Linked DNA regions of Homo sapiens: region 1 is linked to region 2. Evidence: fine-mapped expression QTL. A gene starts in region 2. The other region holds a variant in brackets. All regions are shown on one strand. Distances are between the middles of the regions.

Evidence for each region.
Region 1: its variant is fine-mapped to the expression of BRS3 in breast (GTEx, PIP above 0.99).

The regions. Positions count from the first base shown.
Region 1 is chrX:135,956,120-135,961,512 of GRCh38, forward strand. MMGT1 (membrane magnesium transporter 1) reads right to left here. Exons shown (of 4, transcript NM_173470.3): 4 at 4,469-5,393. Among named protein-coding and RNA genes, the nearest start is that of MMGT1, 15 kb to the right of the region's middle. The variant T/C (reference allele first, on the strand shown) is at 2,716.
Region 2 is chrX:136,485,658-136,491,050 of GRCh38, forward strand. It overlaps BRS3 (bombesin receptor subtype 3), which reads left to right and starts at 2,290. Exons shown (of 3, transcript NM_001727.2): 1 at 2,290-2,891; 2 at 4,476-4,827. The coding sequence starts at 2,458.

The DNA of each region.
Region 1 (5,393 bases), 530 kb before region 2:
TGGATTATAGATCTAAATGTAAAATGAAAACCTACAAAACCTTTGAATGGAAACATAGGAGAATATCTAGATGAGCTTAGGTTTGAAAGTGAACTTTTAAATTCAACACCAAAAGCATGATCCATGAAAGAGAAACCTGATAAGTTGATCTTTACTACAATCAAAATTTATCTGTGATAGACACTGTTATGAGAATGAAAAGAGAAGCCACTGACTGGGAGAAAATATTTGCAAAACCCACACGTGTAAAGGACTTGTATTCAAAATATACAAAGAAGTCTTACAACTCAACAATTAAGCAAACAAACCAGTTTTAAAATGGGCAAAAGACCTGAACAGATACCTCATCACAGGAGAAATGCAGATGGCAGATAAGCACATACAATGCTTAACATCATTTGTTGTTAAAGAACTGCAAATTAAAACAAAGAAATAGCACTACACACCTATTAATAACTAAAATTCAAAAACTGACAATACCAATTGCTGGCAAAGACATGGAGCAACAGGAACTCTTATCCATTGCTGATAGGAATGCAAAATGGTCCATTGCTGATAGGAATGCAAAATGGTACAGCCACTTTGGATGGCAGTTTGGCAATTTTTTTATTTTTTATTTATTTTATTTTTTGAGACAGGGTCTCACTCTACCATCCAGGCTGGAGTGCAGTGGTGCGAACACGGGTCACTGCAGCCTGGAACTCCCAGGCTCAAGCAATCCTCCCACTTCAGTCTCCTGAGTAGCTGGGACTACAGACATGCACCACCATGATTGGCTAATTTTTTTGTATTTTGTGTAGAGACAGGGTTTCACCATATTGCCCAGGTGGTCTCGAACTTCTGGGCTCAAGTGATCGCCCGTCTTGGCCTTTCAAGGTACTGGGATTATAGGCATGAGCCACCGCATTCAGCTTGGCAATTTCTTATAAAGCTGAACATAATCTCATCATATGACCCAGCAATTCTGCTCCTCGGTATTTACACCCAACCACTTTGAAAAATCATGTCCACACAAAAACCTGCATGTGAGTGTTTATGGAAGATTTATTCATAACCAGCAAAGACTGGCAGCAACCAAGATGTCCTTCAATAGGTGAATGGATAAACAAAGTGTGGGAACATCCATACAATAAAACTATTATTCAGAGATAAGAAGAAATGAATTATCAAACTTCTGAGAGAAATGGAGGAATCCTGAATGCATATTGCTAAGTGAAAGAAGCCAGTCTAAAAAGACTACATACTGCATGATTCCAACCACATGACATTCTTGAAAAGGCAAAACTATAGAGACACTGAAAAGATCGGTGGTTAACACAGGCTCAGCAGAAGGGGAGGGAAGGATAAATATGTGAAGCACAGGGATTCTTATGGCTGTGAAACTATTCTATGTGATAATACAATTGTGGATACCTAACATTATGAATCCATCATAACCCACTGAACTTCCAGAAACAAAAAGTGAACCTTAATGTACACACATTTTTAAAAACCATTTGGGAGGTCAGGAGAATACCAAAATCGAAGGTAGAATGTTACAAAACAATCTAAGTTTATCACAAATTTATGAAACAATCTCACCAAAGGAGGTGAGGGAAAAGGTCCTGACCTAAGTAACTTTCAAAATGAGTAGCCTGTGAAACTAATGGCAACAAATGAACAACCAACAAAGCTACATAATCACTGTGCTCTAGCTGATAAAGTTGTTTCTTGTGGGGGAAAGGGTTAACAATTCTGAAGCCAGTTTATATGTATACTGGAATTAAACAGTTGAAGCAAGAAGAGAGCCGATGGTGGGAGTCGGGTTTCTCAGTTGCAGTGGAGGTTTACAGATAAGCAAAGGGAAGAGGTTAGAATGATCTATGTGGTAATGGATTGAACATCAGTATGAACTCATGTTTCATTTAATGGAAATACAGATGTTACATATTTACACTTAGGCATAAATGCACAGGTTAGTATGCACATATATATTTCCTTGATCTGTCTGCTGAAAAGGCCTAGAGGCAATGAAACGTCAAGCAGCAATGAGCGAACCTAGTGGCCAGATCTTGGTTTGTAATACCATTCTTCAATGAAAGGAACCATGCTCCTTGGAGAAATGGCTGATTCCAGGACTGAGGAAGGAAATATACAACACAAGCCCGGAACATCTTTGTAGTGCCAGGAAGGAAGTACTCAAATAAAAAAAAAAAAATAGAAAACTCACAATGACAACGATGGGAATATGTCAAAGGGACACAGGAGTTTACTGAAAAAGCTACCAATGTCTGAAACTGGAACAATTTCAACAAGATATAGTATTAAAGGATAAAGCAAGGTATGAGTCCAAACTCATAAAAATAAATGAATAAATGGGGGAGAAGAAGCATATCTCCCATGCAGAAGAATTCCAAATAAGTTATGTAGATACTCTGTCCTCAAGGAGGTGGAGCATAACATGTCACTCCTTATGTGTGGGCTGTGCAGAGTGACTTCCTTCCAAAAAGTACAGTATGGAAAGGGGAAAAAACAGTACTTTACAGTGGGGAAACCTGACAAACACTACCTCAGCCAGGTGATCAAGATTAACATCAGCAGTATAAATGTGTCCTTGATATGATGTGATAAGAATAGCACTTTACCTTAGTGGTCTTCCTCCAAAAACACACACAACTCCAGTTTAATAACCGAAAAATCATCTAACAAATCCCAGTAGAGGAAGATTCTACAAAA[T/C]ACCTGACCAGCACTCCTGAAAACTGTCAAGATCATCAAAAACAAGGGAAGTCTAAGAAACTGTCACAGCCAAGAGGAGCCAAGACATGATGACTAAACGTAATGTGGTCCTCTTGATAGAATCCTAGAACACAAAAAGGATACTAGGTAAAACCAAAGGGGCTGGACGCGGTGGCTCACGCCTATAATCCCAGCCCTTTGAGAGGCCGAGGCGGGCGGATCACGAGGTCAGGAGATCGAGAACATCCTGGCTAACACCGTGAAACCTCGTCTCTACTAAAAATACAAAAAATTAGCCGGGCATGGTGGTGGGCACCTGTAGTCCCAGCTACTCGGGAGGCTGAGGCAGGAGGATGGCATGAACCCGGGAGGCAGAGCTTGCAGTGAGCCGAGATCGCGCCACTGCACTCCAGCCTGGGTGACAGAGAGAGACTCTGTCTCAAAAAAAAAAAAGGAAATCTGAATAAAGTATGGACTTTAGTTAATAATAATGTATTAGGCCAGGCACGTTGGCTCACGCCTGTAATCCCAGCACTTTGGGAAGCCGAGACAGGTGGATCACCTGAGGTCAGGAGTTTGAGACCAACCTGACCAACATAGAGAAACCCCGTCTCTACTAAAAATACAAAATTAACCAGGCGTGGTGGTGCATGCCTGTACTCCCAGCTACTCGGGTGGCTGAGGCAGGAGAATCGCTTGAACCTGGGAGGCAGAGGTTGCAGTGGGCCGAGATCACGCCATTGCATTCCAGTAATACCAATACTACTACTACTAATAATAATGTATTGACATTGGCTCATTGTGTCAAATGCCTCATGCTAACATGTTAATAGAGGAAATTGAGTATGGAGTATGTGGGAACTCTCTATACTATCTTCCCATTTTCTCCATAAATCTAAAACAGTTCTAAGAAAATAAAGTTTGTCTAGAGAAAATACCAGCTTAAAAAAGAGGTAGACAGACTTGAAAAGAGACTACAGAGACACACTAATAATGTAATTTGTGAACCTTGGTGGGGACAGCTATAAAAGCTATTTAGGGGATACATGGGGAAATATGAATATGAAACTTTGGGTGGTTGATCCATTTTTTTACCTGTGATAATGGAATTGTGGTTAAATGGGAGAATCTCCTCCCTCTTGCAGGAAAGGCATGCTGACATATTAAGTGATGTCCTGAAGTGTGATGATGAAGTTTGCAACTTAGCTCGAATGAATCAGGAGGGGAGGAAAAGCACATCTGGAGAGAGCAAAAGCAACAGTGGTAAAATGTTAAAAATGGTGAACCTAAATGAAAAGTATACTGGTGTCCATCCTATTTTCTTTCACATTTTCTGTAGATTTGAAATTTTTCAAAATTAAATTTCAGGGAAAATATAATTTTAGATTTGGACAAAATGATATGAAAGCTTATCTGAAAAAAATAAACATGCAGTAACTAGAAAAAATTCCTAAAAATGAGGTATGGACTAGCAATACCCAAGACAAAAATATATAACAATTTAAAATAATTAAAAGACTCGTATTTTTTGCAACAGACTACAGAACCCAGAAGCATATCTAACCAGACATATGGAAATTTGATGTATGAATGAGGATGATGGTTTTTCCAATCAGTGTTGAAAAAGTTAATAAATGGGGTTAGAATAGATTGCTATTGGAGAGAAAAATGTTGAATCCTCTCCTCACTCTTACTACCTAGACAAATTCCAAATGAATCAAAGATTTAAAAGTTGAAAAAAAAACCTTTAAAATACTGGAAAAATACATTAAATTTATTCTTAAATGCAAAGGTGGCCTTTCTAAGCAAGGCAAAATCTCAGAAGCTGTAAAGACTAAGTTTAACTACATAAATAAAACTTAGGAAAATATTATTAAACATGACAATGGACCAATTTTCTTAGCTTACAAAAAGCTCATACAAATCAATAAAACACATACCACCTAATAGAAAACAGAACATGACTACACATTTCACAGGAAATATCAGTAATCAATAAACATGAAAATGTGTTCCATCTCCTTCATTAAAATGTACCAGACCTTCATTAAAATGCATTAGAACTTCATTAAAACGCAAGATACCATTTATTCACTTTCACATGATCAGACTTCAAAAGTTTAGTACCCAGTATTGGCATGGGTTTGGTAAATAATCATTCTCATACATTATATGTGGAAGCATACTGGGCAAAGATTTCTAGAGGACAATTTGGCAGTAACTACTGAACTGAAAATAAAAAATACCCTCTGATCCAGCAATTGTATTGCTAGGTACACTGTAGAATAAAAACTCATTATATGTACAAGTATATTCACCACAATGTGATTTAATATTGGAAACAACCTAAAGAGCCTATCAGTGTTTGAACATTTGTAACACATTCAAACATTAGAATACCACACAGCCGCTAAAAATAATGAGGTATTTTTATATATACTGATACAGAAAGATCTCATAAAACACAGGTAGCAAAAAAAGCAAGGTACAGAAGAGTATATATAGTCTGATTCTATTAATGTGAAATTTTTAAAGTACAAATTTGCTGATAAAAAATAAAAAATTGTTTTCCTGTGAGTACAAGACACTTGAAACTGGTTACTTTTGGAGAGGAGTATTAGGGTAGGAGGGAAGGGACCAAGTTTTTATACCTTTCTGTACCATCTGATCTTTTCGCC
Region 2 (5,393 bases):
CAGAAGCCAAAGAGAATCTGTGTTTCATCTTAGTTCTGTTGAGAACTTGTGAGACCTTGGGTGAGATACTTTCCCTACTCTGGACCTCATTTCTGCCTCTGCAAAATGAGAGCATTTGATTTGATCATGTCTAGGGTCACTTCCATCTCTGATATTCTGGGATTCTGGAATTCTAGAGATCTAAGACCCCCACTGCTCCAGTACTACTCCAATACAACTACTCTCTCTTGACCGCTCTTGATCAGAAGGAAGAGGGAGAAGAAAAAGTATTCCAGTGGCTGCAGCCTGCTGAAAGCATGAGTGAGATCTGGGAATTCAGATAATCTCAGAAATCACATGCAAGCATTACAGAACTTACAAAACAGTGCCATGTGGAGATCGGCTGTGGTGTGAATTGGAAGACATGGTTTGCTCCTTGGTAAATGATACACAGGAGTCCCAGGGAGATTTTATCATTAGTTTGCTGAGAACAAGATGTGAACCCTTTAAGGAGCCCTTTTCTGTAGAGACAATCTTAAAGAACCAGCCCAGTGTATGAAATTACTAGAGTGTATATATCTGAAAGCTTAGGAACTTGGGTTTATGCAAACACTCCCCCGCACCCCCATTCCCATCAAAGGCAGTTATTTAGCTGAGTGATTCAAGCTGTGGCAATAACTTATAAAGGGTGGGGGATAGGTGTGGTTTGGGGGACTTAAACCACATCTGTCTTCCACCCTTCATGAAATTAAGGAGGTAATTGATTCAATTCATCCACTTCACTTTCTCTGAAGAACTGATTGCCCCTACTAAGTATAAAGAACAACCTTTGTTGTTCCCCCTGTTCATTAGCTAGCCAAATACTTTGCTCTTTTTCACTTCGCTCCCCAGACTACTTTCTAATATGGTTATATTTATGAACACCTCACTACATGGTTTCTAGCTGAGAGATTATGCATTGCATTTGATAATTTCAGAGAATATTTCTTAGCAGCTTCAATTAGTAACTACACTCCAACTGCTAGCTTCCTGCTCCCAAACAGTGCCCCCACCACAAACACATACATATAAAGCACATGGTTATGTTTTCTGTAAAAAGTAGCTTCTCTGGCTGGTACTGAGGTGGTTGCCTTAAATGTGTACTTCTTTCAGTTGATGTAAACATCATCTACATGCCCATCATCCCTGGAGTCACCTATTTCATTTCTTCATCTGCAAATGATGATTTTCATTCTTAAAAGTTCTTTTGTGTCAGGAGCTTGAGCAGTGATGTTCTGTATTGTTTTGTTTTGGAATAAGGCAGGTTAGGTTCCCTTTAACCATTTCTAGAGAGAAAAATCCTAAACAGCCCCTTAAAAGAAAACATGGCATTAAAACAGACAGTCAAACAGTAAAAAGTGGTTTTATTAGGACATTTAGAGACAAAGCAACTGGTGCTGTGCCTGGATTTTTCATCTCTTAAAAGGTTGTTTTGGCTGGGTGTGGTGGCTCATGCCTGTAATCCCAGCACTTTGGGAGGCTGAGGCAGGCGGATTGCCTGAGGTCAGGAGTTCAAGACCAGCCTGGCCAACATGGTGAAACCCTGTCTCTACTAAAAATACAAAAATTAGCCAGGCATGGTGGCGGGCGCCTGTAATCCCAGCTACTCGGGAGACTGAGGCAGGAGAATTGCTTGAACCCAGGAGGTGGAGGTTGCAGTGAGCCAAGATCGAGCCACTGCACTCCAGCCTGGGTGACAGAGTGAGACTCCATCTCAAAAAAAAAAAAAAAATTAAAAAGGTTGTTTTGATAGTGTACAGCACAGCCTGGATAACTGCAAAGTTGGGGTTTACCACGTGACAGAGCTAGGTATTAAGCCCAAGTGACCTGAATGATCACTCCTTGGAGGTGACATAAACCCTGTCGAAGTGTAAATGATCTGTTGCTTCACCATCTCTCTGATATTAAATTTTGAGGAGTGGGTTCAAGGTTGTGCTTCAGGGGACACCTACACTTATTTATCATGTAAAACAAAATGCACTAGACTACCATGTGATTGCAGGGGGATAAATGGTTTTTTTCTTAAAAAAAATTGACAAAACCTATATAGACCATCCTGGGTAGATATGAAAACAGGGTGATTCTAATAATAAATAAGACGATTTAATAGGGTCTAGTTGGTCCCAAGATTCCCCAACAGGGAAGAATAAGCAACTGCAGAGCATTTCCCCAGCCCCCTCCCTCTCCTTATGACAGGACACGCCAATAAAACTCCACCTCCTACTCTTCAGTGCCAGATGGGTAAGCATTTAGCCAAGCATGCTGGGAGACACACAGAACTGAAGCAAAGGAGTATCTGGATGTCTTGGATTTTCTTCCCATTCTGTTCTGTTCTGTTCTCCTAATACCATCTCGTTACTAGACGTAGGCATTGGACGTGACAATCAACTGCATTTGAACTGAGAAGAAGAAATATTAAAGACACAGTCTTCAGAAGAAATGGCTCAAAGGCAGCCTCACTCACCTAATCAGACTTTAATTTCAATCACAAATGACACAGAATCATCAAGCTCTGTGGTTTCTAACGATAACACAAATAAAGGATGGAGCGGGGACAACTCTCCAGGAATAGAAGCATTGTGTGCCATCTATATTACTTATGCTGTGATCATTTCAGTGGGCATCCTTGGAAATGCTATTCTCATCAAAGTCTTTTTCAAGACCAAATCCATGCAAACAGTTCCAAATATTTTCATCACCAGCCTGGCTTTTGGAGATCTTTTACTTCTGCTAACTTGTGTGCCAGTGGATGCAACTCACTACCTTGCAGAAGGATGGCTGTTCGGAAGAATTGGTTGTAAGGTGCTCTCTTTCATCCGGCTCACTTCTGTTGGTGTGTCAGTGTTCACATTAACAATTCTCAGCGCTGACAGGTGAGTTTCTTTTCTCCATTATATTTGCCAGGATGTGAAATTGGGCAAAAAGAAAGGAAAGCTTGTACTTAGCATTTACTGGCTACTATTCTGCTTTTCTCACACTCTGTAACGTGGATGTGAGATTGGAAAATCTGGTGGCATTTAAAATAAAAGTTAGTGTAAGAATGTTAAAATTTCTGTGTTAGCACGGAGGAGAAGTTGAAATTGCATGCTTTATGGATAATTTATTCTTATTGTTTGCTCGGAAGTATACTGAACGGGGTTTTTATTTTTCTCCAGTTTATTAAGTAAAGCAAATTGTTCCAGGTGTAAAGGAAAAAAATTCATGCTTTATACATTAGTGCAGCCTAGTGGTGCAATATAGTCAACATGAAAACCAGGATAGGTGTGAAATTGACCACATATGTATAACTGTATATTGGAAGAGTGGTAAAAAGACACAGGCATCTAATTTATTTGAAATTCATCAAATTAGCTAATGGCAGAAAAACGGTGAGGTTTTCAACTCCCTGGTAACTTAGTGTAATGTCATCACGTAATTCTACTTGTTTTCTCTGTAGGCATTCAGTGACATTATCATTTCCAGAGAAATAAATTAATCTTGGTTGACTTTTAGAGCTCTGTGGAGAGAGCGTGTGAGATCCTCTTGCAGTCAGGGTGTTCAGATTCTGTGTTAGGATATTTTCAGTCCAAGTACTCTGTTTTTCTGTGTTCCTATTGTAGAATAACTGTAAAAACATGAAAAAATTTGAGGCTCCAAATGTTAAAAATGATGCTTTACAAAGCCTGCAAGATTCCTGTAAGTAATCGATGTTTGGCAGTACCAGAAGGAATAACTTCTTCAGATTCTAGAATCTGAGAGGAGGAAAACCTTTCCCTGTGTCTTTTGATGATTTTTGCTTTGACTGGTCTTATATTCTATTTGAGGGCAGACTGGCTTAATGACTGTAGATTTTAAGGTGGATTTGTTTGAATGAGGAGGTATCTCTGTACCGGCACAGGACTTCTGATTGCAACTTTGCCTCGCCCTAAATCTGTCCACTGATCAGGTTGGGCAACGAATTAACACTTACAAACGGGGAAGAAATTAATCCTCTCCTCTTTACCACATAAACCCTTGGAATTCTCTTCTAGGAAGGTTGATAACTGTTCACTCATGAAGAAAGGAAAATTAATTCAGTTTAACATCAGTCACTTATACAAAAGAAGTCTTTTAGGTACCTTAAGTGTATTACACTTAAGGTAATACACAGGTGGTGAATTACTCTCAGTCACACATAAAGTCATGCTGATAAATGTTTATTTGTCCTAAATAGAGAGTCTATACATAAAATTATAAAATTGCAAATCTGGAATATCTCATAGGAGTGAATAATGGAAAAGGAGATTAGCATAAATAAAAATATTGGGATGTATTATGTGCATTTAAAACCATAGCCAATTCTAGTTGGTTAATGTTGACTTGGTTATACACATATGCACGGAGGGTAGAACTGGATGACCACTAAGGTCACTTCTCACCCTAAAATTTGGTAACTTTGACATTTATTTGGACCTTTGCCTCTGATTATGTGTTTCTAGATACAAGGCAGTTGTGAAGCCACTTGAGCGACAGCCCTCCAATGCCATCCTGAAGACTTGTGTAAAAGCTGGCTGCGTCTGGATCGTGTCTATGATATTTGCTCTACCTGAGGCTATATTTTCAAATGTATACACTTTTCGAGATCCCAATAAAAATATGACATTTGAATCATGTACCTCTTATCCTGTCTCTAAGAAGCTCTTGCAAGAAATACATTCTCTGCTGTGCTTCTTAGTGTTCTACATTATTCCACTCTCTATTATCTCTGTCTACTATTCCTTGATTGCTAGGACCCTTTACAAAAGCACCCTGAACATACCTACTGAGGAACAAAGCCATGCCCGTAAGCAGGTATGTATTAATCAGTACTCATGCAAATCTAGTTTGAATTTAGAAGTGAAGTTCCTACTTTTGCACAGTGAGTAACTGTGTATCTTCCTGTTTATAAATGCAATAGCAGTGTAGTATTTTTGTTATGAGCATAGGCTCCGGTTTGAATCCCAGTTCTATCACGTACTAGCTGAGTAATCTTGAGCAAGTTACCTAACCTTTCTGAGCCTCGGTTTCCTCATCTGTAAAATGAAGATGATTACTAGATGATATAGATGAAATGCTTAGGTGCAGAGTAAGTATTTCAATAAATGGTAAGACTACTACTATTAGAGAGGGGACAATTGAAGTTTGAGAGTAGTCAAAATTTTTTACCCCATGGAATAGTGGGGAACACTGCATAAGATGATACTATGAAGAAAAGCATCTTTTGTTTTAGAAAGTGTAACAGAATAAAAATACATAGCATATAGAACTGGCAAGAATCCGTAACACTATTCAATGCAAACCACTTACACACAGATGAGCAAACTGAGGTGGGGAGGAGTGAGGGGAAAGAGTGGAATGCAAGTAGCACGAGAACACAG